2 separate regions of the Homo sapiens genome follow, and region 2 is linked to region 1. The links come from fine-mapping of genetic effects on gene expression. A gene starts in region 1. The other region holds a variant in brackets. All regions are shown on one strand. Distances are from middle to middle. Region 1 holds the start of FGL2 (fibrinogen like 2). Region 2 overlaps CCDC146 (coiled-coil domain containing 146).

Region 1 (16,089 bases):
TGGCAATGCACAGAATGAAATTAAAGTTGGGAATTGGCCACCTCGGCTTGTTACCTCTGGGGAGAGGGACAGGATTGAAATTGAAGGTGATTTGTGAAGGAGTCTTTATTTTAATCTGTAACTTTTTAAAAAATTAAAGGATTCATGGATTTTATATTAAAATTAATTTCAAAATTATTCCTGCTTTTTTCTTCAGGAATTCAGTAGGGTGGAACAATCACTATTGGGCAGGTACAGCAATATGCCTCTGTGTGACATGTCCCCACAGGCATGTTCCTAGGACCCCTTCTAAAAGTTTGCCACTGTTACATTCCCAGTCCTATAGTATACAGTAAGTCCTCACTTAACATCATGGATAGGTTCTTGGAAACAGCAACTTTAAGCAAAAACAGCATATTGTATGCCATAGGAACTTCATTCTTGTTTATGTCAATTAGCTTATGGTAAAATTGGTTTTGTTACATGGTATGTTGTTTTAACGTCGCTGTTTCTGAGAACCTATCAACAGCGTTAAGTGAGGACTTACTGTATTTGATCCTGTCTTGCCATATTCTCCCTGGCTGTAATTGCTTCTCACCTATGTTCACAGTCTCTCATATCCGCAGATTTGACCCTACCCACTACTTTCCCAATCATAACTGTGGCCTCTTTAGAGTACAACTCTTTCTCTGTGGCAACATATTATTAATCACTTTGAATAACAATACTCATGTCTCAAATTTCCTTTACTCCTATTCACACAGATTGATTTCAGGATAGAACTTAGACAATATTGAATAATATATAATAAGGAATATGTAGGATGGCATAAGATCTAGGAGAGGTGCCAGGACCCCACCTACTGTCATCAGAGAACTCTGCCTATAAGAGATAACTATTTAGGGCCTGGCGCAGTGGCTCACGCCTGTAATCCCAGCACTTTGGGAGGCCAAGGTGGGCGGATCACGAGGTCAGGAGATCGAGACCATCCTGGCTAACACGGTGAAACCCAGTCTCTACTAAAAATACAAAACAAATTAGCTGGGTGTGGTGGCGGGCACCTGTAGTCCTAGCTACTTGGGAGGCTGAGGCAGGAGAATGGTGTGAACCCAGGAGGCGGAGCGTGCAGTGAGCCGAGATGGTGCTACTGCACTCCAGCCTGGGCGACAGAGCAAGACTCCATCTCAAAAAATAAAAAATAATAATAACTACTTAGGATGATGATGATTTTTTTTCTCTGTCACCCAGGCTGGAGTGCAGTGGCGCCATCTCTGCTCACTGCAACCTCTGTCTGCCAGGTTCAAGCAATTCTCCTGCCTCAGCTTCCTGAGTAGCTGGGACTACAGGTGTGAGCCACCACACCTGGCTAATTTTTGTATTTTTAGTAGAGATGGGGTTTCACCATGTTGGCCAGGCTGGTCTCACGTGATCCGCCCACCTCGGCCTCCCAAAGTGCTGGGATTACAGGCATGTGCCACCAACACCCAGCTGGGAATGATGATTTTTAAATATATATGTTCTAGGTGCTTTATATATGTGATTTAATCCTCTCAATAACTCTATCAGGCAGATTCTATTACTATTCCTATTTTATAATTGAAGGAACCAAAGAACATTAAGTGACTTGCCCAGGATCATACAGCTTGCAAATAGTGGAGCTGAAATTCAAACCAGGAAGGCCAGCTCCTGAGTTCCTGCTGTTAATCATGGGTGATAAGACAAAACCCAGTGAGGAAAGAGGATGGCATTCTATCTAGACCAAGGAAACAGTATACTAAAGGCAATGAAAACATTAGAAAGCGTAGTTTGTTTGTGTACAACAAGGCGTTTAGTATGGCAGAAGTATAAGTAGTGGTAAAAATCATTTCATGAAGGGACTTATTTGCCAGATTTTATCTTGTAGAAAATAAGGCATTGTTGGCCGGGCACGGTGGCTAATGCCTGTAATCCCAGCACTTTGCGAGGCCTAGGCGGGTGGATCACGAGGTCAGGAGATCGAGACCATCCTGGCTAACATGGTGAAACCCCGTCTCTACTAAAAATACAAAAATTAGCTGGGCGAGGTGGCAGGCGTCTGTAGTCCCAGCTACTCAGGAGGCTGAGAGAGGAGAATGGCGTGAACCCAGGAGGCAGAGGTTGCAGTGAGCCGAGATCTCGCCATTGCACTCCAGCCTGGGCGACAGAGTGAGACTCCGTCTCTAAAAAAAATAAAATAAAATAATAAAAAAAAAGAAAAGAAGGCGTTGTTGAAAGTTTTTTAAGCAGGACAATAACATGATCAGAATTGTACTTTTGAACAATCCCCCTGGTAGGGATGAAAGTTGGACTGGAATAGACTGAAACCAGAGGTACAGACTATTCAGATGCGTTTGTGTTGTCCTAAGGAGATGAAGAGGGCTAACCAGAGCAGCAACACTAATAACGGAAAAAGAGGAGAGGAAGTTGAATGCCACAAAATGAAACTGAAACTTTTGTATTTCAAATGTTTCAACAGTATTCTAGAGGGAAGTAAGATAATGGTGTTCCTCTATTTGCCTCTGACTTCTTGTTAATGAAATAGTACTCATTAAAGTCTTCAGAGTCACAGATATTGTATAGCTGAGGTAAGCATTTTACAACTTTTCAGACACAAGTAAGTACATAAATATTATTTTACAACCAACAATATTTAATATTTCCACATTGAAGAATAGATGTGATAATTAAATCTTTTATAAGGTTTTAAAAAGACATGAAACATAAACCTAATTATACATAAAAGAAAAGAATTTTAAACAAGAGCTTATTGTGATGACATTACTCATAACTTTTACCTTTAAAACCTTTTCTTGGGTAGCTATTCAAAAGTAAAGACCACAAGTTTTGTTGCCCAGATTTCTTATGTTTTGTATATTTAAGCTCTTTATTTATTGAACAGATGTGTCATTAATTCATTTGGAGCATTACTATTATCAGTAAAATTTGATTTTTTTTTCCCCTCAGTCATAGGTAAATCAGCTCCACCTGGAATTTCTAAGGACCCAGTTTTAGTCAATATTTTCAAGTAATCATGACCTCAGAAATAGTCTTAATTAAGATAACAAATATTAGCCATCAAAATGGAACCAAGACAAGATTCTAATGTTTGTAAACAGTCAATCCATATTTATGAATATTAGCATATATTGGTGAATAGTTAAGGCAAAAGGTTCTAGCAGATGTAATCTATTTCCATCAACATGTTAAATGTTATAAAAGTCTAGAATTATTGGTAACATGAAATGATTCCAAAATGGAATTTCTGTGTTACAGAATTTACTAGAAAAGTGCTGTGAAAGTATAATGAAAAATAAAGTGATCCCTTGAAATAATGTGGATAGAACAAGCTTTTGAATATTTACATGGATTAATGAATTATTTGCCAAATTCTCCTGAAGTTATACCTAGTTCCCATTAAATTAATGGACACCGTGTATATGAGCATATACCTTTCTTTAGAACTATGTTTTGTGATAAGTCCATTTTTACTCACAGGAATTTACTTAAACTTGTACATATATTAATTATATATACTAAATGACAATGACCTTATCTGAAACAAATACATTGTATAATATCAAAACGTTTTTAGTCTTTTTTAAAAAGTAAAAAGTAAAAAACAACGTCAGTTACATCATTTACATTTGGTATCCCACCTAATAGAGACACAGCTTTTGAAATCTACAATATTTTACATTTTGGTCATCATTTAATGCTATTTGCATTTCTCTTTAACATTTTAATAGTATTTGTGATATATCATGTTTAACTGAAAGCTTTGGGTTATATATTTTAAAGGAATATCTTACTTTTTGACTAAATAGTTCTGTAAGGGCCTAATATTTGAAAAATTAGCTTGTTACCTGAAGCAACTATCCTCCTTAATCATTTTAAAATAATGGGTAAAGATGCATCTTTGTAAATATATTTTGAAAACTTGGTTAGTGTATTAGAAACAGACACCAGAAATTAAAAAAATTATTTCTAGGACTGGCATACACTACAGTGAATTACTTCAAATGTTACTCTAGAGCATTTTTAAAAATACGCAGAATACTGCTGTTCTCTCTGAGATGATCCCTTTTTACGATGATGAAATTAAACACATTTAAAAAGTCTTTTAAATATTATATATAGCATTCCAGAATTGATGAATTATAAAAATTACAGATACTTCTGTTTGGGTAAAAATCTATCTTTTAGTTTCTGATAGTAAAATAAGCAATCTACCAGCCAGGGTTGAAATATATAGTATTTTAACTACTGTTCTATATATTTCAAAATTCATGTTTTCTATCTGTCCTAGAGAAACTTAGCCTTCTATGAAGTGAATCACTTAATGATATTATTGCTTTGGAGATAAAATTGGCCTCAGAGTATGATAGCCTGTAAGTAAATGCTTCATTACCCACATATCCCTACCCACCCCCCCCAAAAAAACCTACCAGTAGTCTAGTACAGTAGTGAGCAATCTTAAATTAAAAGCTATTGTTCACACAGAGCAGAGGAAGATAATTTTCATGTTAAAGCAGTTTTCAACATCAAACATCTAAGGAGTTATAAACTATAAATGAATTACCTTTAAACCCTGGTCTTCACAGTTACATTGCTTTCTGAATGCTTTTTGGGGTGACATTATGCTACCACATTTTTAAACGGTTTAAATGACAAGTATTTTATATTTCATGAATGATAAATGAACAAGTTTAATTATATAGATATTAGTTCCCTTAGTCTGGGAACCAAAATGCTGTAGGGTTGTTCTGTTGCAAAGTAAATGATATAGATTAAGTTTGTCTCAGAATGAAGATTACCCAAATAATTATAGCCTGAAAAGAGTGATATACCTTCAGATGTGCTTAAATCATGGCCCAAATACAGATTACTTTGTGTAGAATCCAGCCTACTGAATAAATTTTATTATTTTTTTGTTTGAGACAGAGTTTTCTCTGTCACCCATGCTGGAGTGCAGTGGCTCAGTCTTGGCTCACTGCAACCTCTTCCTCTCAGGTTCAAGCGATTCTCCTGCCTCAGCCTCCCAAGTAGCTAGGATTACAGGCATGTACCACCATGCCCGGCTAATTTTTGTATTTTTAATAGAGACAGCGTTTCACATGTTTGGCCAGGCTGGTCTCAAACTCCTGACCTCAAGTGATCTGCCTGCCTTGACATTCCAAAGTGCTGGGATTACAGGCGTGAGCTACCACACCCAGCCAACAATTATTTTTTAAATACAGCAAGTAATACAAGCAATAGAAAAAGTTTCAATAGAAATTAAAAGAATTGTAAATCTAATGTATAATTCTCAATATTGCTAATTGCTTGCAAGTGTTCATTGGATAACAGCATAACAACAAAGGACTCCTTTAAAATGCATTGTTTTTCAGCTTTATTTCAAATGCTGTGTAGCATAAGAACCTAGCCGTCAGACATCATTTTTTAGCTATGAAAAATATGAAACAAGGCATATTCTAAAGTGCTGAAGGAATTAATTGCCCTATTAGATAACGAATACCTGGAGGAATGAACAGAGTGATTTATGGCTTAAAGTGCTTGGGTCTGATCATCATCTTAGCCTCTTTGAAGGAGGACTTGTAGCCACCAGGGTGTGCCTCACTTACACCAGGCCAGGTACCCCAGAAAATCCCATTACGGACACCTCTGTATTTTTGGTGATAATATTTGCCATTTAAGTTTGCAGAAAGACATGCATCAAACCACCAGCCTGAACTGTAGTACAGCCCACAGTTCCCAGAAGGATATCGATCATTGTCTTTATCTGGAGTGGTGAAAAACTTCAGATCGTGGTTGTAATGTTTGTTGAAACGTAATGCATCTCCAGCTGTGCCATTATAGTTACCAACGTGTAAACGATATTTGAGAAACTCATTAGCCACATAAAACTGATCATACAAGGCATATAGTTCGACACCATTAAAGTCTTCAAGATCTATTCTCAGAATCATTTCCTTACTCTTGGTCAGAAGATGAATTTTATCGTTCCCCAGCCAAAATTCCCTTCTGAGGTTTCCAAAGCCTGCTTTGTAGTCTTGCCATGTTCTGGTGAAGTTGGTGCTCCCATCGAGACGTGCCTGCAGCACTGTCCAGCCTCCCCCCATGGTCTCCATGTCACAGTAAACTTCAAAGCTACTATTTTTGGGATCAGGTGTAACTCTGTAGGTCTCACTGCTTCTTTTGCCTATTGCGTAGTAGTCAGAGCAATCTTTATATATTAGATGTTGAACTGAAGGGGAAATAAAAGGAAGGCATTGGATCTTGTTAATAGAAACCATGCATCTGAAGAATTCTTTATATGTACAAAAGCAGTTTGATAATTGAATCAATGGCAGTAATGAAACTTTACTAAACTTACTTGAACCTGTTTAGCAAATGCTTAAGGCCTCACAAGAAGAACCTAATGTTATAAAGCAGAAAGGACCTCTAATATACTCTTGGTTGGTAGTAATAATGACAGCATCAACAGCAAACGACAATAAGAAAATAATAAAAGTACAGTTTTAATAATTTAGTATTATGTAGTGAGGCCTACCTATACGTTCTAGGCATGCTGCCAGACTGGGTAACATTTTCACACTGAATCTGAACATTGACCTTATGATGTAGGCGTTACTGCCAGTCTGCATGTGAGGATATTTAGGCATAAAGATCAGTGGCTTGCCCACCTTCACCTGAGCTTTAAGTGGCAGAGCCAGGACACTAACTCAGATCTGGCTGGCAGCAAAGCTTTGTTCTCGTAATCATTGCATCCCTTGGTCCTAAAAATCAGATGATTCTAACTCTCCTAGAACTGTATTCCTTGCATACAGAGGAAGCACAGGCTTCTATTTTCTTTCACCTAAAGGGGCTGATAGCCTCTACTGTCAGAAGGTTTTATAGCATATATTCCAAATGATGTGTTAAAATCCTAATGCATAGGATTGATCATAAATTCATATTCATTTCACTTGACAACTATATAAAGAAGCTCAAGTGAAAAAGAAGTATCTTTTTCAATGACACACCAATATTCTTATTCTGTATTTATTATCTAGGAAAGTATTTAGCCACTATTTCACATGTTGGGTTTCTAGAAAGAAACAACAGGTGACTATATTGAGGATAAGCATAATAATCAGTTAACAAAGTTCTGTATGAATCAGACAGATATTTACTCCCAGATAGTTTTTATTAAAATGTGTGACAAATAAGGTAAGTTTAATATGAGATACCCTAAGGCATAAAAATCTATTCCTGTATATTTAGAGCTCAGAATATTCAGTTATTTCACCCAAAATGTTTAGGAGAAAAATAGACAATAGTCTTCATATCATGACAAGTTGCCATGCAGCATCTAATCTAATGTATACCCACTGATGTCACCTAAGCGGTGAACCTTGGATTCGCAGTGTGCCAGGTACATTCAGATGCAGGCTGCCAGGAGTATTACCAATAGAGGTCCTTGAAAATATGACCCTTCCCTCCTTCACTGGCAGATGCCCTGGGGATGGAGCATGCCTGAGATACTGTCTCTAAATGAAAGTGATCTCCGCCCTGTCCTTTCAACCTCACGTTCATGGTAAGTAGAGGTCCAAATGCGGAGATGGCTTTCCAAAGTATGAGACAGTCAGCAACAGTGGTCCCAGTGACTCAGGTGAAAAGCCAAGGTTTGGAGAGTCAATACCACTGTTAGTTCGTGGGTGGAGTAGGCGATTAAGTCTGTGGAATTTCACATGTATTTATTAAAGTTAATTCAAGTAATTTGGATGGTGAGGATGGGTTCTACTTCTATCTGCTTGAATTCTAACTTCAGGTAAAAGAGAAAGAAATATGAATACCTTCCCTTAGTGGCATGCTAAAACTCTCCCCTTAAAATATTTTTTGTGCCACTAGGTCTCAAAGCAAAAATTTGTGCACACATATGAAACTGCTTTTATTCCATCTGTAAACTCTCCCATTTTCTCCAGATATTTGGGATTAAGAACTAGATTACTTGCTAAAATCTTTCAAAGACCTCTTTAGCCATGAGAAGCGGCAGTCAGTCAATCACAAGAAAAACTGATTTCCAACAAACAAGGCACAATTGTGAACATCGCCTTATCTTTATTGTTTTCAAACACCTCATTGAAGAGACAAGTTAAATGCACTAAAACATCAAGAAATTCTCTCTACTTCTGCTTGCAAGTAGGTCTGGCATTAACAAATAAGATCTTAAAATTGAAAGTGACTTCCAGTGGATACAGAACTAACTATGATTTTTGTAATTAGGTCATATTTATGTGGTCATATTTGAGAAGATATTTATTTTTTCCTGTGCACCTTGATAAATAAAAGACTTAATCTGTCATCTATTTAACTTACTGACTCAGGTTAATGTTTATAGATACTCTCTAGCTGTATAACATTTATGAACATATGATAAGAAAACATTATTATACATACCTGGACGTGACTGTATTTGTTCTTGGCTGGGACACTTTGAACATTTGCCATCCAAACTATTGACAACAAATGTTAGATTTGCCACTTTGCTGTCAACATAATTTTCTATGTTGTTCATATTTACAAGATTCAGCTTCTCCAGGCGACCATGAAGTACATTGATCTCCTCTTTGGCATTCTTTAGCTCAGAGGACAGCTTGTTAACCTCACTCTCTAATTCTCTAACTCTGTTATCACCAACCTCTCCCGGGGCTCCTGTACTGGGTAACAACAGTCCGTTTCTGCCTGGGTCTCCGTTGTCATCAGCCTGCAGCTTGCAGTCTTGGCAAGATTTCTTTAGACTATTTACGATTTCCTTGAGGTTTTGGACTTCTTTGAACACCTCCTCGATCCTGCTGAATTGCTTCGGGAGCTGAATAGTCAAGGGGGGCAGGCTTACCTGGTAGGGGCACTCCCCTGCCTCTTCGCATTTCCCTCTGCTTTCTAGTCTCACTGGGCAGACATCCTTTGCTCTTTCATCTTTAATTTCCTCTGTTTCATTGTTTGCCACAACCAAAAAACCGTAAGTGGCAAGAACAGCTGAGCTCAGCCAGTACCAGTTAGCCAGCTTCATCTTTACAGTGCTGCTCACCCCAGCAGGGAGTGCGCAGGGCTGGAGCTGCTTTAATAGCGGCAGCTGCCTGAGTCAGGCTTTCTGTGTTCCCAGGAAAGGGTGGGAGCGTTTGCATCACAAGTTTTAGAAACGCACAGGAAGAGGAGATAGCCCTCATCAAACGCAGTTTGCCAAAAACTGTAACTTACTCTCAATAGAAATAATATGCATTGAAATTATTATAGTCAAATGTACACAGCCAACAAGATTCACTTTCATAATGTATTTTATGAAGTATAAGAAAAGTCTTGCATTTCTAAAGTAATTTGGTATACTTACGCTTGAAGTAAATAATTATACGTAACTTCACTGGAAAAACAGTTTTTAAAGATAAAAAGTAAGAGCTAGTTATCCAAACTGTCTATAGAACAGAAACGTTACTAAAATGAAAATGGTCCTTTTTCCTTCTTAGAATGGGGCATTGGGGAGCCTGTATTTTCTTCATGTTGGACTTTCAGGTGAAATCTTAAGCACTTTTAGAAGTTTCTAAGTGTAACAAAGTACAGCTTTCTGACTATTGCAGTTGACTTTTGCTTCATCTACTTGAAAAAGAGAAGAAAACTAGTGGAGAAAAAAGTGCTACTTTCTATTCCTTTGTCCGTAGCATAGTGTATATTAATGTCTAAATGTCTAAGACCCATTTAAAAGGACATAATTGTCTTTCATCAAAACCAGTAGCTGCCTCCTTTGCCCTTCGACATTTTGGTAATTGTACTGTCATCTTCCACAGCTGCTCAAATGTGAATCTTTGAGCTATGCCAGTGTCTGTCCTGAACTTCTCTTGCCTACAGCATCTTTGCCCTTTCTTTCTGCAGGTAGCCCTGGCAGGCGGGCCTCTTGCTTTCTGTCTCCACGCTGGTTCTTCTACCTGCTCTCTGGGCCACTTGGTATATCAGCTTGTTCAAAACATGTAGCATTAATGATAATAGTTTTCTAACTTTCTCTTCAGAGGCTGAAGGCAGGAAAGAGGAACAGCTTCAGTTAGAGAAACCACCTCCTTTTAATTTGTTTTGCATATTGACATCTCATAAGATTTCTTGTTTAAAAAGGGTTTTTTTGCTTTAAAAATAATTTCAAAATGACTGACATGGGCAAAAATCTAAATGTTTTATTGTATTACTTAAAACACTCTGTAGCCTATCTCATATTTATGTCTTTAACCTGATTTCCTATGACTTTTCTGTATATCCCCTTAATTTTAGCCAAATCCTATTCACATTCTCAAAATGTTGGCAGACTCTTTACTCTTCCATGACTGTATTTATTCTCGCATACTCAGGAGACCTGGCTTCCAACCCTAGATCTACCTCTGATCATGTAAACAGATCATCAGCTTTAATGAGCCTTTGTTCCTGTAGCTGTAGCGGAGGAATTTAGCTATTTCTTCCCTCATACAGGAATGATAGTCATGCAAACTTGGAGCACTTGGCTGGGCGTGGTGGCTCACGCCTGTAATCCCAACACATTGGGAGGCCGAGGCATGTGGATCACCTGAGATCAGGAGTTTGAGACCAACCTGGCCAACATGGTGAAACCCCATCTCTACTAAAAATACAAAAAAAAAAAAAAAAATTAGCCAGGTATGGTGGCGTGTGCCTGTAATCCCAGCTACTCGGGAGGCTGAGGCAGGAGAATCACTTGAACCCAGGAGGTGGAGGTTGCAGTGAGCCTAGATCGTACCACTGCACTCCAGCCTGGGCAATAAGAGTGAAACTCCATCCCCCAGCCCCACCCCTCACAAAAAAAGAAAAAAAAAACTTAGAGCACTTAAGAAAAAAAAAAATGCAGTGTATAAATGTAACATTCTTCCCAAATAAATTTGTCAAACATGTTCTACACACCTTATGACTTTTTTTCTTCCATCTTCATATAGCTCTTTCAAAAATTGTTTTTCTCTTCATTCCATTCAATATATCCAATTTTAGACAAAAACTTTTTAGCTAAAAATATCTATTTAATCCCCTAACTCCTAACCTCATTTCTTCTCACCTATTTTCAAGCTGTGACACTTCCCTGTTGGGAGGTAAGAAATAAATGAAACAATAGATAATTTTAAAAAGGAGACATGATGACAACATAGATAAAAAAAAAAACCATTTTGTAAAGTAGAAATATATAGGAATGATATTTAGTTCCTAGTCCTTAAGGATATTGTGAAATGTCCTTGACTGACTAGAGTATAAATCCCTGCATTTAGTTAGTAAAGTATTTATTAAGGATCTTCTGTATACTCAGCACTATGCTAGAGCATATATAAGATGCGTGCCACAGGCACTTTCATTCATTTATTCCTCATACATATATTGATATACTATATATTTATTCATCATAAATTGACTCTGCACCCTCTGCATGCAAAACCGCTATTCTAGGCACTTGGGCCACACTGGTGAACAAATCAGACAAAAATCCCTTTTTCCTTCTTAGAAAGGGGCATTAAAGACCTGGTATTTTCTTCACGTTGGACTTTGAAATGAAATCTTAAGTACTTTTTAAAGTTTCTAAACCTAACAGAAGTACAGCTTTTGGACTCTTGCAGTGGGCTTTTGGTTCATCTGTTTGAATCAGAAATGTGCGTGTCAAGCACTGCTGCTAATTTTTGGCTGGTCACACCCCAGTTAACCAAGGGCCAATGGCACAGTTTCCCCTAAAAAGCTTGGATGTGCTTTGAGAACTGGCTTCTGTCCCTTCAGAATGCATAAAAAATTCCCTGACATAAGGGTAGAGAACTCCTCTGTTGACCAGTTTCATTGACACTGACAGGTGACCTGCTAGGTTCTCGGTTTAGAAAGTCATTTGGCCACTGACTGGAAGGCAGATGCTAAGTGACTACTGCATGAAAAGAGGCTCAACTCCCCTAATGAGTGTATAACTCATGGAGGGCAGAGAGTGTTGTACCGCCTCTACGGTTCCTCCCTGCACTTGCAGATGAGCAAAGAAAGGGCTCAAAGCAATAAATGACTTGTCTGGTCATTTTACAGTTTTCAGTTTCTGTTTTAGAGTTTTTAAGAGACAGCTGGAATTTGAACCTGTATCTGATTCAAAGTTCATATCTTTTCTCTTTGCCACATTGCCACGTAGGAGGAAAGATAACATGGGGAGGGTATGTGAGAACTATGTGGAGAGCCTGTGCTTAAAGCAATGCTTAGATCAATGGAGAGCCACTAAAGGTTTTTGAGCAAGGAAAATAAAATACTTGCCCCCCCCCCCCCCAGGACTATTTTAGGAATGAATCTTCTGCTGCAAATCAGTGGGAAATGGCATTTTAGGTGAGAGCTAGTAGTGTGGTAGCAGGCACTAGATAAGAGGTGAACCAGTGTGGAGGCAGGAGGGGTAGGAAAGGAGATGGAGGCATTATTACCAAGGCATGATAGAAGCCATGGGATCTGATAAGTGGTGAGAACTGGAAAGAGAGGGACAACTCTGAAATTTGCCTCTGATTGCAGTTAAATGATAGCATGCTAATGACAGAGGTAGCAGTAGGTTGGGGAGAGTGTAGTAGTATTTCTGTTTTCAGTACACTGGGTTTTAAGCATTGACAAGCCACCAAATGCAAATATCAAGCAAAGAGTGGTGGCACATCTAGGTATGAATATTGACACAGAATAGATGTGGATGTTAATTTGAAATCACGGGAATCAAAAAGATGGTCAAAGAAATAGGATGAGAACCAGGAGAGTACAGGAGCGTCATGAATACCAGGAAAAGGGAGGGTTTCAAGCAGGACTAGGCCATCAGAAAATCGAAACCTGAAGAGCTGACTTGTCCTTCACTACTAGGAGTTCCCACCTCATGACTTGACCTTCTGCCTCTTCTCTCTTGCTGAAAGCCCTTCTGGATTCTCTCATGCTGAGTCTACCCTGACTCCTAGTATCGGCTGCTTATTCCTCATGGCGGTGTCAGAATCTTCCTTACTACCCTGAATCTGTCCTTGACCCAGCACTGACACATTACACTCACTTACAGACTTGTTTTTAGATTTAAGCAAATTATTTAACACCAATACATGGTGGGATTTTAAAGTAGCAAAATTTATTTCTATAAGCCGCATATGAAATTTTACTTTCATTAGTCTATATTCACATGTTCAGACTTCCTTTTTGCTTACACAAAGTATATTTAAGAGAAGATCTGCATTTTCTATAACTGGATCAGATTCCTAAAGTAAATTTTTGTTTCCCCTAATACAGTTTTTTTTTTCAAGGAAACCCTTTGTGTTTCTATTTGTACTAAAAGAAGAAAGTAAATTTAATGATAGTCGTATTTATAGTATTGAGAGCCTTTCACTGATATTAAGCTTATTAACATTTGTAGTTTCTGATTTATTAAACTCAGGAACCTTTAATTGTTCTTTAAAGAATATGTGCTTTTCTGATAAGAAAATTAAAACATTCACTTTTTAAACTACTTAATTTGAAATATCGACAGTAAATATTTATTTTAATATTCCTTAGAGGTCTTAGTCCTTGTTCATTATAAATTTCATGAAAAGAACTTAAAAAAAATGATTTCCACAACCCACAGAACAAGAATTGCCTGACTTTTGGTTAAAGCTAGAATAATAGTTGGTAGGTTCTGTGGTATGACTTGCAGGTACTTCATTCTGGCATAGATGAGAGATTCAGACTAGAAGTCTTCCAATATGGACCTACAATGAAAGATCTATTATGGGAATCCTTAAGATTTCTGGATCAACTGAAGTATAGGGCAGAAATATACAGATATTCACTATTAATGAAACTACAGAACATAGTTATCCAATATGCTAATGGCACAGGTCTTAAGTGGGAGTATCCAGGGCTTCTCAGATTGAAACTTTATGGAACTGGAATATTCCACAAGAGTCTCGGAAAGTTCATCAGTCAATACCTATCAACAAAATCAATTCTTATGTACTCCACACCAAGCCAGGGATCATGAAGGATCCAAAAGGTTAATGGATATGACATCTAATTTACTGTCATTTCCCTAAATTTCCAGAGACTTAGGAAGTTTCATATAGCCAGCCAGGTGCGGTAGCTCACACCTGTAATCCTAGCACTTTGGGAAACTGAAGTGGGAGGACCACTTGAGGCCAGAAATTCAAGACCAGCTTGGGCAACATAGTGAGACCCTGTCTCTACAAAAAATTTAAAAATTAGATGGGCATGCTGGCATGCGCCTACAGTCCCAGCTGCTCAGGAGGCTAAGGAGAAAGATCGCTTGAGCCCAGGAATTTTTACTTCTTGTATTTGAGATTGATCTTAAGCTTCTTCTTATAATCCCAAAACAAAACAAATAATAAAATCAAAGTAAAGAAATTAGGAGAATCAAATTGTGGCTTTCTATATCTTGCCTTCATTTCTCATATTCATGGTAGTTGTTTCCTATAAAGTCATTGCGAATACTGAATCAGCAAATACTGAACCATTGCTCCTAAGATTAGGTTTCTAAGAGCCTCTGGTCACATCATTTTTGTTAACCAATCAATATATAACCTTATTTTAAGTGTGTTTCTGTTTAAAGACACCCTATTTAATATATATTATTTATTCATTAATGCAGAACTCATGGCCAGCAGAACTATAATTCAAACCTGAAAGAAGTTTATCTAATATATGTGTTTTCTCCGTAAGACACATCACAGCCATCTGGAGCTTAAGAACTTGGGCATGCTGGCTCAGGCCTGTAATCCCAACATTTTGGAAGGCTGAGGTGGGTGAATCACTTGAGCTCAGGAGTTTGAGACCTGTCTGAGCAACATGGTGAAACCCCATCTCTACCAAAAATACAAAAAATTAGCCAAGCATGATGGTGCACACCTGTGGTCCCAGCTACTCGGCAGGCTGAAGCAGGAAGATCACTTGAGCCCAGGAGGCAGAGGTTGCGTGAGCTAAGATCATGCCACTGCACTCCAGCCTGGGCAATACAGTCAGACCCTGTCCCAAAAACAGACAAACACAACAACAACAAAAACCCTCTAGGTAGCACTTCAACACTATGCTCAGGGGCCATTTTATTTTATTATTTCTTAAAATGTCTTTTCTTTCAGTCACATTCTCCAGATGAGTCAGAGGCCATTTTAAACAGCGAAATCACCAAGAAAAAGCACAAGAATGTGAAAAACATGGCACTAATTAAATAGACTGCAAAGTGGATACCAGTTTACAGTATGAGATCTAAAAGAAGGCAGAAAGTTGCCTTCTTTGACTTCAGCTGGGTATATATGTATTTGGCAAATCAACATATTTACCACGCTACGCATGTCCATAGATGATCCACAGGTCCCACAAGTATTAATTTTGGGGTTACAAATAAATTTTAGAGAGTAGGCAAATCACAAAGACAAGATCTATGAATAATGAGGATTGCCCATATATTGTTACAAAATCCAGGGCTTTAAATTCTTGAAACTGCCTATGTATTTATTCTAATATGTATAATTTGATTTTACCTGCTTATCACTTGTGTTTTTGGGGGGTTTTGTTTATCTGTCTTTCTTTGGCATTTTAAAATAATATATAGGCAGGCACAGTAGCTCACACCTGTAATTCCAACACTTTGGGAGGCCAAGGCAGGCAGATCACTTGAGGTCAGGAGTTCAACCAGCCCGGCCAATGTGGTGAAATCCCATCTCTACTAAAAATACAAAAATTAGCCAGGTGTGGTGGTGTGTGTCTGTAATGCATATAATGGTGTGTGCCTCAGCTACATGGGAGGCTGAGGCAGGAAAATCGCTTGAACCCAAGAGGTGGGGGTTGCAGTGAGCTGAGATTGCACCACTGCACTCCAGCTTGGGTGACAAAGCGAAACTCTGTCTCCAAAAAAGAAACATACATATATATATATATATATATATATACACACACACACACACACATACATATACACACATGAATTTATATAATATATAACCTATTACATATTTATATATTGTATGTTATATGTCATGCCATATAGAACATTGTGAAATATGTAATCCATTAAATATAAATTTAATAATAATGTATAGCTTAGAAATT
Region 2 (16,089 bases), 33 kb after region 1:
TAGTTTTGTAAGGCACACTTTGCTCTTCCAGGCCTATGGACAGGCCAAATTACCTTGCTCTGCTCCATCTCTTACATTTGCCTTGTGTGACAGATAAATTGCAGTGGAAGTGAGTGAATAAACATGAATTCTTTTAACTGCATCATTGGTTTTAAGATAAGCTTAGATCAACAACAGTTAATGGAAATTATTAAACACTTATAGGATGTCAAATTATGTGTGAGGACTCAAAGATGAATAGAGCAGGGTTCCTGTCATCAAGGAATGCACAGTCTAATGGGGGGGTAAATGTTTAAACATGTTGACCACAGTGTACAACGTGTGAAATAATAGAGGCATCTGAAAATACAGCAGCAGTAGGGAGAACTAATTGATTCTACCTGGAGGTGTCACTTGAAGGAGCCACAGGTGGTGGCCACTGAGATGCTTTAAAGGAAGAATAGGAGTAATAGGAGTGTTCCAAGTAGATAAGAAGAGAGAAAAGAAATTGCAGATAGGTAGAAATAACATGTAAAAACATGGTATGGTTTAGGAACTGTATTAGTTTTCTGTTGCTGCCATAACAAATTACCACAAACTTAGTGGCTTAAACACAAATTTATCATCTAATAATTCTGTAGGTCAGAAGTCCAACCTGAGCCTCAGTTGGCTAAAATCAAGGTGTAATCATGGCTACATTCCTTTCTGGAGGCTCCAGGGGAGCATTTAGTTGCTTGCCTTTTCCAGCTTCTGGAAGCCACCTACGTTCCTTGACTCATGACCGCCTTCCTCCATAGTCAGCAACAGTAGGTCAAGTCCTTCTCATATTTCAGATCTTTCCTCCTTCTCCTTTCATTTCATGTCTCAAATCTAGCCAGGAACAATTCTCTGCTTTGAAGTACTCACATGATTGGATTGGGCTCACCTGGTTAATCCACAATAATCTCCCCATCTCAAGGGGCCATTCTTAATCACATTTGCAAAGTCTCTTTTGTCATGTGAAGAAAGCCATCCACAGGTTCCAGGGATTAGGACATGCACATCCTGGGGGATGCGGGAGATTATTCTACCTACCACAGGAATTGTAGTTGCTATTACAGAACCAAAAGCATCATGGGAGATAGAGGGAGGAGACAGGTTTGGAGAAGGCGGCAGCTACCAGATAATGAAGACCCTTGTACACCATGTTGAGGAGCCTAGACTTAATTCTGAAGGTGATGAGGTCCTTTGAAGGGTCTAAAGCAAGGTGAGAATTGTGTTTCGATGGAGCATTCTGCTGGCAGCATGCAGGACAGACTCAAGGAAGACAAGTAAGGAAGTCCTCAGTCAGTTTACTAATTTATAGTGTACTGGCAGTCTGGTTACTACAGGTTGCTGAGTGATGAAAGGGGAGGGAATGAAGGGACAGAGCAGAGACTACTCTTTTGAGAAGAATTGAAATGAAAAGTCAAGGAGAGAAAGAAGGTAATTAAATGGGAGCACTATGCCCAAGATGGATTTTGTCTTGTTTGTTTTTGAAATGAGAGAGATGAGCAAATTTATAGGTTGAAGATAATGATAATGATTATAATAAAATAGCTAACACTGATTAAGACTTTATTTGTACACTAAGATATTATACTACATATGTACATTGATTCATTTTTTCTCTCTTACAACTGAAGAGACTGAGGCAAGGACTAGTTAAATATCACTTCAAGTTACATAGTTTTAAAAAATAGCAAAGCTGGCCAGGCATGGTGGCTCACACCTGTAATCCCATCACTTTTGGGGAGACCAAAGCAGAAGGATTGCCTGAGACCAGAAGTTCGAGACCAGCCTGGGCAACGTAGTGAGATTCCATCTCTACAAAACATTTTAAGAAAACCTAGCGGGGCATGGTGATGCACACCTGTAGTCCTAACTACTTGGGAGGCTGAGGCAGGAGTATCGCTTGAGCCACAGGAGTTCGAGGCTGCAGTGAGTTATGATTACACCACTGTACCCCAGCCTGGGCAACAGAGCAAGACTTTGCCTTAAAAAAAAAAACAAAAACTAGCAGAGCTATAATTCAAAACAAAATCCACTTGACTTGTGATATACTTGACTACTAGACTATGCTAGCCAGTAAAAAAGAAGAAGTAGGGCCGTGCGTGGTGGCTCACACCTGTAATCCCAACACTTTGGGAGGCCGAGGTGGGTGGATCACCTGATGTCAGAAGTTCAAGACCAGCCTGGTCAGCATGGTGAAACCCCGTCTCTACTAAATATACAAAAATTAGCTTGGCATGGTGGCGGGCACCTGTAATCCCAGCTACTCAGGAGGCTGAGGCAGGAGAATCGCTTGAACCCTGGAGGCGGAGGTTGCAGTGAGCTGAGATTGCGCCATTGCACTCCAGCCTAGGCAACAAGAGCGAAACTTCATCTCAAAAAAAAAAAGGAAGGAGTAGAGATTAAAAGGAGAGAAGCTATTACTGATGACTCAATGCCTAGGAAAAGGTAGGAGAGCATATATTTGAAAGCACAGGTGGAGGAGGAAAGGAATATGTGGCCTAATATTTTCTGTGAATGAGTTAGGTGTGTGAGAAAGCTAAAGCTTGAGATAACCTATGGGAAAAGTCAAAGGAAGCAGTTTTGAGAGCTCAATGCATTTGGAAACTACTTGAAATGGCCGTATTGTTTATTTCCAGCAGTGAGAGGGGAGCAGGCGAAAGGGAGATGAGAGTGGTAACCACTTATGCTTTCACATTTATATTACCTTCCAAAGCATGCCAGCCATTCCCCAGAATGAAGCCAACCCACTAGGTAATGTCAAAGAAGTCACAAGAACAGGGTAGGCAAATAGCTGTGACCACCTTGGACAAATCCAGGTTCCCTGCACACACCCACGCAAACACCTAATTCTTTCCTCATGCTGACCCCCTTCCAGATAAACTCACTTGGTGAAAGCTCTTACTGAGCTATTACTTCCTTGAAATGTCCTAGAATTTCCATTTTTGAAATTTTTTCCATATTGTTACATGTCATCCATGAATCATGAACTCTTTTTAAACTTTATCTCTAGAGTAAATGTTTCCTTCCAGTCACATAATTGCCAGCAGGGCAATTCAATAACACAGAATCTATTGTGAAATCATATTTATGAACTTATGACATTATATCTAACCTTTCATTGTGTATGCTCTTTGACAATTTAAGATTGAACTTTGTGCTATATTTCTTAGATTCTGCATTTTTGAAACATGACAAACTTGAGTTCTGCACCCACTTGTATCATGCAATGTGAAAATGCAACCATTTTCCATGTATGATATTGTTTATGAGTGAAGCATTTTTATCTGCTAGAACTTAGTGTGAAGTTTCTAACCAGGGATCGACCTGCTTAAAGAGACAGTTTATAATTTCACAGAAAAGTCACTTTTTGATGAATGTTGACGTCTAGATTATGATTTTTTATGTTTAAGGCAGCTAAAATCTATTCTCCACAGTTTAGTTTTTTTAAGAGAGATTTGTTTTTTTAGAGGAGACTGAAATAACAAAGTTTATCAACTAACATTCTGAACATCTATGACTTTACCTTTTCCAATTTATGTAGAAACTGCAAGAACATATTCAGGTGTTTTACCCTGTCAGCTTTCTTTGCAGGTTTGTAAGGCACCAAAGGCCAGCAGAATGATAGAGACAGAAAACAGGAAAGGAAACCTCTGTAGTTTTCCTGCTTTTCTGTGGCCATAAAACTAGCCAACATGTATCCTTGGCCCACCTACAATTAGGCTTCAAACCATTGCTGTTTTTTTGTTTGTTTTCTGAGACGGAGTCTTGCTCTGTCGCCTAGGCTGGAGTGCAGTGGTGCAATCTCGGCTCACTGCAAGCTCCACTTCCTGGGTTCATGCCATTCTCCTGCCTCAGCCTCCCGAGTAGCTGGGACTACAGGTGCCTGCCACCACGCCCGGCTAATTTTTTGTATTTTTAATAGAGACGGGGTTTCACCGTGTTAGCCAGCATGGTCTCGATCTCCTGACCTCGTGATCCGCCTGCCTCAGCCTCCCAAAGTGCTGGCATTACAGGCGTGAGCCACGGCGCCTGGCCACCATTGCTGTTAAAGATGGGACTCAACTTAGGGGAAATACAGTTGAGCATTCAGTAAGTCAGAGCTAGAATCTGCCTATATCTGCCACTAGGACCTGATCACAGTACTCTCTAAATTCTAATTCTCTCTAAATTCTGCTCTAATTCCCTCTTGTTTACAGTGATAGTCTGCAAGCACATTTTTAATAGCCTTTTGTTATTAAAAGTAATACATATTGGAAAAATTAGAAAACACAGGCAAGCAAAAATAAAAACATAAAAGCAGCACATTCTTACTACCCAGAGCACATCATTTTAACATCTTAGTTCTTATCCTTCTGGATCTCTATATATTCACATACTCATATGTAAAATAAGATCATCTTCTACGGACAGTTCTTGCTTTCTGGCTTAACAAGATGTCTCAGCTTCACTTTGTGTCTTCCCTGTACCAGACCTGAAATCAACCATTTCTAACACTTGCTGCTTCCTTTTAGTGGGAAATAAGATTAAAGACCAAAATGTATTAGGAGTGCTCATTGTTGTTAATGTGGCATTATTTCTAGACCATTATATATTTTTTAACCTTTAAGTTTAGTGATACAAGTGCAGGTTTGTTACGTAGGTAAACTTGTATCATGGAGGTTTGTTGTACAGATTATTTCATCACCCAGGTATTAAGCCTAGTACCTATTAGTAGTTTTTCCTGATCCTCTCCCTTCTCCTCCCTTCCACCCTCTGACAGGCCCCAGTGTGTGTTGTTTCCCTCTATGTGTCCATGTGTTTTCATCATTTAGCTCCCACTTATAAGTGAGAACATGTGGTATTTGGTTCTCTGCCCCTGTGTTAGTTTGCTAAGGATAATGGCCTCCAGCTCCATCCATGACCCTGCAAAGGACATGATCTCATTCTTTTTTATGGCTGCATAGTGTTCCATGGTGTATGTGTACCCCATTTTCTTCATCCAGTCTATCACTGATGGACATTTAGGTTGATTCCATGTCTTTGCTATTGTGAATAGTGCTGCAATGAACATACACATGGATGTGTCTTTATAATAGAATAATTTATATTCCTTTGGGTATATACCCATTAATGGGATTGCTGGATCAAATGGTATTTCTGTCTTTAGATCTTTGAGGAATCACCACTGTCTTCTACAATGGCTGAAATACTTACACTCCCACCAACAGTGTATAAGCATTCCTTTTTCTCCACAACCTCAGCAACATCTGTTATTTTTTGACTTTTTAAAAATTGTTATCTTTAGTTCTGGGGTACATATGCAGGATGTGCAGGTTTATTACATAGGTAAATGTGTGCCATGGTGGTTTGCTGCACCTGTCAATCAGCCCATCACCTAGGTATTAAGCCCAGCATGCATTAGCTATTTTTCCTAATGCTCTCCCTCCCCCAACTAACAGTAGCCATTCTGACTGGTGTGAGATGGTGTCTCATTGTGGTTTTGATTTGCATTTCTCTAATGGTCAGTGATGTTGAGCTTTTTTCCATAAAATTGTTGGCATTGGCCACATGTATGTCTTCTTTTGAAAAGTGTTCATTTCCTTTGCTCACTTTTTAGTAGGGTTATTTGGCTTTTTCTTGTAAATTTACATTCCTTATAGATGCTGGATATTAGACCTTTGTCGGATGCATAGTTTGCAAAAATTTTTCCCATCCTGTAGGTCATTTAATCTGTTGATAGTTTCTTTTGCTGTGCAGAAACTCTTTAGTTTAATTAGATCCCGTTTGCCAATTTTTGTTTTTGTTGCAGTTGCTTTTGGTGTCCTCATCAGTAAATCTTTGCCTGTGTCTATGTCCTGAATGGTATTGCCTAGGCTGTCTTCCAGGGTTATTATAATTTTAGGTTTTACATTTAAGTCTTTAATCCATCTTGAGTTAATTTTTATGTACGGTGTAAGGAAAGGGTCCAGTTTCAATCTTCTGCATATGGCTATCCGGTTACTCCAGCACCATTTACTGAATAGGGAGTCTTTTCCCCATTGCTTGTTTTTGTCAGGTTTGTCAAAGATCAGATAGTTGTAGGTGTGCGGTCTAGGCTATTTAATGGACAAAGCTAGGGAAAAAAATTTTAAGCATGAGTTAGTTCATACTTGTATTTGCAATTCAATTTTAACTTTGTAGTGTTTTCACTAATTTGATTTTACAATTGTATCTCTTTTACACAGAAAATTGATTTCTAATGTAATTGACATTAAAGTTTTCTTGAGTTTACCATAAAAATCACTCTTTTAAAGTGTTTTTAATGGCTTTTAGTATATATACAGAGTTGTATAATCATGGCATAATTGTAGAATATTTCCGTGACACCAAAGAAACCTTGTGCCCATTAAAAGTCATTCCCCTCACACTAGTTGTCTTATGTGTAGGAAACCACTAAATCAACTTTCTGTCTCCAAAGATCTGCCCACTCTGGATATTTCATATAAATGAATAACATAATATGTGGCCTTTGGTGTCTTGCCTCTTTCACTTAGTGTATAGATTTCAAAGTTCATCCATGTTACAGCAGGTATCAAGACTCCATTCCTTTTTATGGCTGAATATTCCATCCTATGGATATATATTTTTTGTTTGTCCATTTGTCAATTGATGGACTTGTAGGTTGTTTCTCTTTTTTTTTACTATTATGAATGACGCTGCCATATTTGTGTCCAAGCTTTTATATGAGCATATATCTTCAATTTAATTGAGTACACTCTTTGCTTTTTCACGTGGATTTGAGTTATTGTTCCTTCTTTCCAGCATGAAGAGCTTACTTTATTATTTCTTATAAGGCAGGTGTGCCAGCAATGATTTTCTCTATTTTGGTTTATATTGGAATGTCTTTATTTCCTCTTCCTATTTGAAAGATATTTTTGATGGATATAGGATTCTTGGTTGACAGGTATGTGTGTGTGTGTGTGTGTGTGTGTCTGTTTTTTCTTCACTTTAAATGTGTCAGCCACTGCCTTCTCCCTTCCATTATTTTAGATGAGAAGTTACTCTTATGTGATTCCCTTGTACATAATAAGCTGGGGTTTTTTGTTTTGCTTTTTGCTGCTTTGGAGATTTATCTTTATCTTTGGCTTTCAGCAGTTTGTGATGTATCTGAATGTGAATATCTTTTTGTTGATTCTACTTGGGATTCTTTGAGCTCCTGAATATGTTTTCATCCCATTTGCAAAGTTTTTTATTTCTTTAAGTTTGTTTTCTGTTCTCTTTTTCTCTAGTTCTCCCATTACTTGTAATTTAGTGGGATTAATGTCCTCCATTTCTGTGACAATCTGTTTGTGTGTCTTCATGCTTTTTCTCTCTGTTATTCAAATTATATACAGTAGTCCCCCCCACCATCTGCAATTTTATGTTCTGCGATTTCAGGTATCCGTGGTCAACTATGGTCCAAAAATATTAAGTGGAAAATTCCAGAAGTAAACAATCCATAAGTTTAAATTGCATGCTATTCTGAGTAGTGTGATAAAATCTCTCATGTTCCCACACCATCCCACCTGAAATGTGAATCATCCCTTTGTCCAGCATGTACACACTGTGTATGCTACCCACCCATTAATCACTTAGTGGCTGTCTTAGTTACCAGGTCCACTGTTGCAGGATTGCTGTGCTTGTCTTCAAGTTACCCTTATTTTACTTAATAATGGCCCCAAAGCACAAGATCAGTGATAGTGGCAATTTGGATACGCCAAAGAGAAGCCATAAAGTGCTTTCTTTAAGTGAAAAAGTGAAAGTTCTCAATTTAATAAGGAAAGAAAAAAAAGTTTGCTGAGATTGCTAAGATCTACAGTAAGAACAAATCTTATCTGTGAATTGTGAAGAAGGGAAAATAAATTTGTGCCTAGCATAAATGGGTTTGGTACTATCCATTCAGGGATCCTCCTGGGGTCTTGGAGCACATCCCCCATGAATAAGTGGGCACTACTGCCTTCTCTACTGATCTACAAGTTTACCGATTGATTCTTCTGCTTGCTCAAATCTACTGTTGAACTCCTCCAGTGAATTTTTCAATTATGATTTTCTACTTAGGAATTTCAGTGTAGCTCCTTAAAAATTTCTTCTTACTGACAATCTCTATTTGATGCATTGTCATCATACTCTCCTTTAATTTTTAAAACATGGTTTCTTTCATTCTTCAAACATATTTATAATATTTTCTTTGAAGTCTTTGTTAAATCTAACGTCTGCATCCTCCCTAAGAAAGTTTCTGCCTGTTGTTGTTGTTTTTTTTTTTTTTCCTCTGCAGAAAGGAACTGGGGATCTCACTATATGGGATGGGGGTCATATTTTCTTGTTTCCTTGCAAGTCTCATAATTTTTCATTGTAAATTGGACATTTTAGGTCATATATTGTAACAACTCTGGATTCTGATCCTTCCCAGGCTTATTGATGCTGTTTTGTTCTTGTTATTGTTGTTCATCTATTTATTTGTTTAGTGACTTGGCTGGACTAATACTGTGAAGTATATTTTTCCCCCGCAGTAGGCAGCCTCTAATGTCTCTGCTTAGATAGTTGTTCCTTGTTTTTTTGTTTTTAAACTTGAATTCCTGGGTGTTGCCCTCGGTCAGTCACTGATTGGTCAGAGGTCACGCTTAAGCTCACTGAGCCAGTAAGGTTTTCATCCTTTTCCACTGGGTCTGTGTGTGGCTTGGGAACAACTTTTGGAGTTCGAGGAGTTTATATATCTGCCACTTTTAACTCAGGGACTGACTTGGAAGTACCCTGTCTGGTTGATCTTGGGTGGTCACAGCCGTGGGCTTTTCCACAGTCTCCTGGACCACCAGTATCAAGTGTGAATTTTTTTACTGTCCCTCGTCCCAATTTCTCTGTTAAACTTCTGCTGGTCTGCATCTATTAGCATCACAAAACTATTAGCCTACTCTGTTAGCCCTTATGATATCTGTTTTTCTATGTCTGTTATTTTTTACATTGCTCTGGGACATGAATATCCTACACTCTGTTCCAAATAAAGTCAAAGGCAGGGCTGCAGAGCTGCAAGTCCTCACAGCTTGCTCAGCCCCCAACCTGGTTAGAGCCTCTGTGTTACTGAGCAGGAGCTGGGGATATGGGGAACTCTGATCTGTTTTGTTTGCCCTGCCCAGGGTCTCCCTGTAGAGCAGGACATTAGGGAGTGAGTACTGGCACTACCGAACAGCTACAGCTGCCCATGGGGAAGAAGGGGAGGATGAGTGCTGAGTGCTACCGTTTCTTAGATCTTCACCTGGGATAGATCTTGATCCTCAGCAATAGGAAAGTGGGGGACATGGGCACCTCACTGGCTGCAAGCCTGCCCAGAATAGTTCTGAAACCTGAAGCTAGAGGGATGGATGCAGCCCATGGTTCAAATGCCACAGTTTCTTGCTGAGCTTCAGTAGATTTTATTGAATAAGTGTTTCTCAATTTATTATATAACCTTAGGTCAATTTCCAGAGACTTTAAATGGTTGTCTCAGATTATTTTGACCAGTTAAATCAATGCTTCTTTTGTTTCTTTTGTTTGTTTTTTTTTTTTTAGAC[G/A]GAATCTCACTCTGTCACCCAGGCTGGAGTGCAGTGGCGTGATCTCAGCTCACTGCAACCTCTGCCTCTGGGGTTCAAGCGATTCTCCTGCCTCAGCCTCCCAAGTAGCTGGGACTACAGGCATGCGCCACCATGCCCAGCTAATTTTTTTTGTATTTTTAGTAGAGATGGGGTTTCATCATGTTGGCCAGGCTGGTCTCAAACTCCCGACCTCAGGTGATCTGCCCGCCTCAGCCTCCTAAAGTGCTGGGATTACAGACGTGAGCCACAGTGCCCGGCCAAATCAATGTTTCTTTGAAGGAGAGAATTCATCAAACTCTTCATCCCACCATTTTGGAAGTCCCACCCACCCCCTGGATTGGTCTGTAATTTATAATTTTACTTATTTGCTTTAAATCAGCAGCCCCCCAACCTTTTTGACACCAGGGACCAGTTTCGTGGAAGACAATTTTTCCGTGGGGCAGAAGGAATGCTTTTGGGATGAAACTGTTCCACCGTAGATCATCAGGCATTACATTCTCCTAAGGAGTGCACAACCTAGATCCCTCACATGCGCATTTCACAATGGGGTTTATGCTCCTATGAGAATCTAATGCCACTGCTGATCTGTCAGGAGGCAGAGCTCAGGTGGTAATGCTCACTTGCCCGCTGCTCATCTCCTGCTGTGCAGCCCAGTTCCTAAAGCCCAGGGGCTGGGAACTCCTGCTTTAACTTGCAATATTAAAACATTGCAAAATGCCAAATACAATCATTTACTTAAAATAAAACTGCAGAATGTAGTTTCAGTATTCTATCATTTTTTTTTTTTGTATCTATCTCTTCAAACTTTGGCCTACCTTAAGGCAGAGCCTATGTTATATTCATTTCTGTTTTTTTTATGCAGGGAGCATTAAGTAGGAAGTAATGGTCTTTTTAGCTTAAGAACAAAACTAAATACTATCTGTTTTTTTGAATATTTGAGTCCACAATTACCTTACCCAGTAGTTTACCTTCAGAAAATGGCTGGTTAGCTAGTTACTGGGCTAGCCCCTAGTTGGTCTTCATTGTACCCATATACATACAAACACACACTCACATATTTACCTTTTCATAATCTTTTCCCAGCAACTTTTCTCCTTTAAGTGTGTCCATTTGTAAAGGCTTTTTTTTTTTTTAACTTATTAGATTTTAAAGCCATAGTAACTATGGTCTGTATACTTTGGGAAACCAATGAAAATGTTTGAAACATGAAATAAATTATATATTGGCTAAAAAATACTGCAGAACCAAAATAAATATCTGTAAAATGTAACATTAAGTCGACTTACCAACAGCAACTCAACAGTTAAAAAGTTACAAATAGACCGGGCGCAGTGGCTCACGCCTGTAATCCTAACACTTTGGGAGGCCAAGGCGGGTGGGTTGCCTGAGCTCAGGAGTTCAAGACCAGCCTGGGCAACATGGTGAAACCCCATCTCTACTAAAATACAAAAAATTAGCCAGGTGTGGTGGCATGCGCCTGTAGTCCCACCTAATTGGGAGGCTGAGGCAGGAGAATTGCTAGAACCCGGGAGGTAGAGGTTGCAGTGAGCCAAGATAGCGCCACTGTACTCCAGCCTGGGCAACAGAGCGACAATCCATCTCTGGGGAAAAAAAAAGTTATAAATAAATTATATTTAAGGTGGCATATGAATAGATTTTAAGATATTTGATACAGGTAGAGTATCCTCAAAGGTCTTAAAGATCTTGTTCACCATATTTCACCCATAGATTAAAAAAATAATGAGGGTTGTAGGGATTGGAAGCCAGGCCTGGCACCAGATAGTATGGCCCTCATGAAAGATCCCCAACACTTTCACAAAGAAGAAATGGTTTCATAATGCATTTAACATTTTTCTACCCTGATGCGGGTAGAAAGACCACGAAACCCCACTGTATAGACTCAGACTTTTGCATTTTGATAGCTGCATTCATTCATTTGCTAACAAATATAAGCAATTTACCTAGCACCTGGGTATACTGTGCCTGGGATTATACTGTGCCTGGGATTCTAGTAATACTTTGGCTGAGGATACAGTGAAGGACAAGGTAATCTGGGCCCTTTCCTCATAGGTCTTATATACTAGCTGGGGAAGTATAAAAATGTTTTTAATAATGTAAGTAAATTTATTCTTGCAGATTGTAATGTTATGAAGCTCAGCGTTCTTTAGAGGTAGGAGCAAGTACACGTGGTTATCTTCTTTAGATTTGGAAGTCAGAAAAGGCCTTCTTATGAATTCATATTTAAGCTGAGACATGAAGAAAGACTTGGAGTGAAGTAGGGGGAGTAAGGAATGACTAATCAGAGGCCCTGGAGAAAAAGAGAGACTCATACATCTGTGGAAATCAAAGGCAGCCAGTGTGGCAGAAGCAATGAAGCACTGGGAGCTTAAAGAGTGTGTTGTGAAAGGAGGCTGTGGGGGTGTTGGGGTCAGGCAGGACCTCAAGGTCTTGAATACCAAGGGTCTTGAATTTTATTCCACTTGAAGTGTTTTGATCACCCAGCATAACATAACCTTGTCTGATTTTTAAAAAGATCTCCCTGGCAGAAGGGCAGTTAGGAGGTTTAGTAGTGGTCCAATTGAGAGATGATGAGACTTGGGCCAGTGGGATCAGGGAAGGAAGAGGAAAGTGGATGAATTCAATAAGCACTTTAGAGGTAAGGGCCAGGCTTTCACGCCTGTAATTTCAGCACTTTGCGAGGCCAAGGTGGGTGGATCACCTGAGGTCAGGAGTTCAAGACCAGCCTGGCTAACATGGTGAACCCCCATCCCTACTAAAAATACAAAAAATTAGCTGGGCGTGGTGGTGTGCCCCTGTGGTCCCAGCTACTTGGGAGGCTGAGGTACGAGAATCACTTAAACCCGGGAGGCAGAGGTTGCAGTGAGCCGAGATTGCACCACTGCATTCCAGCCTGGACGACAGAGTGAGACTCCGTCATAAATAAATAAATAAATAAATAAATGTAAGAACAACAGGGCTGAAAAACACAAATATTCTCTTTAGTTCTATTTTGATACTGTCACTAGCAGTTGAAGTCAAACCTAATACAAATGCTCATTGCATTATGATTTTAGGATGGTAAAACTTTAGTGTTTGACGATGTTTTATGATGTCTGTTAACTAATTATCACCTAACTCAGAAAACAGATCAAAAGTCATTTTAACTAGAAATAAAATGGGAATAAATAGTACCTCTTTATGCATTGGAAAACTTTCCATGCTTCTTTGACAGCAGAGGCAAAGGCATCACGGTACAGGGGAGTGATCGTGGGTTTTTGGAGCTGAACCACTTGGGTTTAAATTCTCACCCTGCCTTTAACTAGCTCTATAACCTTGAACAAATCATTTTTCTAAACTTTAGTTTCAAATGGAGATGATAATCTTTATTTCACAACATTTTTAAGAATGAAATAACTGATGGGCAACACATACTCTAATAGCTGTTCAATAACCATTCATTTTCTCAACTTACAAATAGCCAACCTATAATCTACACTATTCAGATTGTTTGTTAAACCTTGAAATTTTTTTTAGAGTTAGAAGAATTTAACTCAATCCTCTCAATTTCCAGACAAAGAAATAACAGCCTAGGGAGTTGAAAAGACTTGCCTGAGGACACAGAATGTACTGGGGGCAGAATAGAACTAGCACTATTTTCTCCAAACACCTGGCATGTTTCCAGTACACTACATTGCCTCGTGTATCCTCTAATGTTTAATGGAGGATTTTATAAGATAACCATATATCCATTCCATCCCCTGCTTAAGCCTAAAGAGAATGGTGATTAACAGTGACCTTATGTTCTCTTTGCTAGTTACATGCTATGGGAAAACTTCCTGGAACCAGAATGGCAGCGTTAAAAGCCAAGTATACCTTGCTGCATGACGCCGTGATGAGGTATGCAATTTACCAATATGGAGACATGATTAATCACCTTTAAATTTCTTACTGGTGATGAGACCTGTCTTCATTTGCATTCCCCCATAAGCAGACCCTGAGGCAAGGATTTGCGTTCAGGGAGTTTGAGAAGTGGTACGAGAAAGCATCGTGAGAGAGTGGGGAAGTGCGACTGGGAAGGAAGGAATCTAGCCTTGATCAGGCCGTGTACATCTGCGAGTTTATATGATGGGCTACTGGGGCTCAGCCTCACAGAGGAGCCTCTGAGTGGCTCACCTCAGCACTCTCCCACTGAAGAGTGAGGAAACTGGAATATTTGCCCACCAGTTTCCACCACTCATTTATTACAAATTACTTCCAGGGAGATTAGCTCTTGGCACTTCCAGCTTGCGCTTTGACAAACCAAGCAAACTTTGATGGCCAGAGACAGCTCTCAGGCGGAGGGACACAGGTGCTGCTGATACATATGGTAACTGTCCACTAAAGCTGCAGGTGGGCAAAAGGATTCTGGTGGGACACTGACAGTCTCTGCATAGGACACACCTGCAGGACTCTTCTCCCGTGTCTGTTCATCACTCAGAGGTGTAGATTCTCCAACAACCCCAGCTTGAGTCTGCTGAGACCCTGTCTGTACTTCTCACCTCCTCCCCATATCACAAGCTACTTACACCTTGCAAGTCCCAATCACCAACAGGTCAGAAGAACAGGCTATCATAGAAGAGTCCAGCAAGCCTGCCTGAGCACTGGCTATTAGCCACTGGGAATTAAGAGGGCAGGGGAGTGAAGAAAGAGGGAAAACCCTAATGTGCTGTGATTCTTTACCACTCCCAAGCCTCTTTCTTTCCTTCCCCCACCTCTTGTCTCAGGGCCTTGCATTGTATCTTCATCAAAAGCCAAGGAGCAACAGCAACAGATAGAAACTCCATGCTGCCACTCCCCAGCCATCCTCTCCCCGCAATTCCCAATCACTTCCCCTCCTTCTTATCTTGCCCAGAGATATTTGGCTACTTTGAGGGTAAAAGCATGAGGGAAGAGTGAACAACTTGGAAAAGAGCAGAGCTGCATTCCTATGCAAACTTCAAGTGCACCCAGGTTCCTCACACCCCTCCAAAGCCCCCAGCCTTGGTTCCTCATCCTCAAGCCCAAGCCAAGTCCTCACCCCCACACCTAATGGAGGTTCCATTCCCCCGTAGCTGGTCACGCCTGCCAGTGTGTTCTCAGAGTTCTCAAGGCTCAGGAATTTTGAGACTTTAAGTGGAAAGTCTGGAGTAATCTTTTACAACATACTTCACACTGCTTAACTGAGAGGAAATGCCATGCAGTTCTCTGGGCATCCCTCCAATCCTCTTTGCAGATACAAGGAATATCAGTGTTTCCTGCCCTCTGGATAGCTCTTCTTTTTTTTTAGACAGAGTCTCCCTCTGTCACCCAGGCTGGAGTGCAGTGGCCTGGTCTTGGCTCACTGCAAGCTCCGCCTCCCAGGTTCACGCCATTCTCCTGCCTCAGACTCTTGAGTAGCTAGGACTACAGGAGCCCGCCACCACACCCAGCTAATTTTTTTGTATTTTTAGTAGAGATGGGGTTTCACTGGGTTAGCCAGGATGGTCTCAATCTCCTGACCTTGTGATCCTCACGCCTCGGCCTCCCAAAGTGCTGGGATTACAGGCGTGAGCCACCGTGCCCAGCCTGGATAGCTCTTATCTAGAGCCCAGTGGAGATTTGCAGGGTGCTTTGACTTAACTTCCTCCTCCCCTGGCCCACAACTCAGTTCCCTGGCCCCTAATGACAAGTAGCAATGCAGGACCTCAGCTATGGCACTATTTCTTCCTCTTCCAGGTTGTGTTGCAAAACAGTTAACTTCCCTTCTGCTACCCACATTTTACATCTTGACCACTTAGTTCCCTCTAATGCCATTGCAAATACTCACCATTCTCTCCTACTCCCAATGCCTGATGGGTGGGAAAAACATGAAGTAGACTCTTCATTCGTGCTGCTAGGACTACAGCTGGGCAGATATAGCCTGGAAATATTGAACTGAAACTGAATGAGTCTTCCATAGAAACCATGTTATAAGAGTTGTTAAAGTCTCTTCTACTGGTATCATGTTTTAAATACATGTGGGTAAGTTGCGATTTGTGTTCTGGCTGGAACCCTACCACCCTGTCCTTTCTATGCAAAAACAGGCACTGTAGCCTGGTCCAACAGCTTACAATTTCAATAGCTGAAGCCTGACCTATTAAGGAGACCAGATAACTTTAGATTTACAAAGTTTATTAGCATACATGAAAATTGAATTATAGGAGAATAATTCCAGCTTTCATTAATGAAAATTATTTGAGGTATCACTGTAGCTATTGTTGTTGCTATTTGGTACCTAACATCATGCCTGGAACGTGTTATGTCCCAGTAAATGTTTTGCTAGATGCTATTGAGCAAATGACATTATAAAACCTGGGAAAATGGATGTATCTGTACTGAATTGAGAATATCACAAAGGTGAGGCAGACACAAGGTAACTTCAGTTGAGATTGGCTTGATCAAGTCATTGGGCGTCTCTGCAAATGAGCTGGAACTTGAAGATTTATCTTGGTGAGGACAGTTGGTGGGGAGCATACAT

Evidence for each region.
Region 2: its variant is fine-mapped to the expression of FGL2 in blood mononuclear cells (TOPMed, PIP above 0.99). The same link has a PIP of 0.9 or more in macrophages.

Annotation. Positions count from the first base shown.
Region 1 is chr7:77,190,745-77,206,833 of GRCh38, forward strand. It overlaps FGL2 (fibrinogen like 2), which reads right to left and starts at 9,075. Exons shown (of 2, transcript NM_006682.3): 1 at 8,437-9,075; 2 at 2,625-6,241. The coding sequence starts at 9,049. The coding sequence ends at 5,535. All of the region lies in intron 2 of CCDC146 (coiled-coil domain containing 146), which reads left to right. RefSeq lists a silencer at 8,666-8,775 and an enhancer at 12,165-12,214.
Region 2 is chr7:77,223,558-77,239,646 of GRCh38, forward strand. CCDC146 (coiled-coil domain containing 146) reads left to right here. Exons shown (of 19, transcript NM_020879.3): 3 at 13,390-13,472. All of the region lies in intron 1 of CCDC146-AS1 (CCDC146 antisense RNA 1), which reads right to left. Among named protein-coding and RNA genes, the nearest start is that of CCDC146-AS1, 17 kb to the right of the region's middle. The variant G/A (reference allele first, on the strand shown) is at 9,555.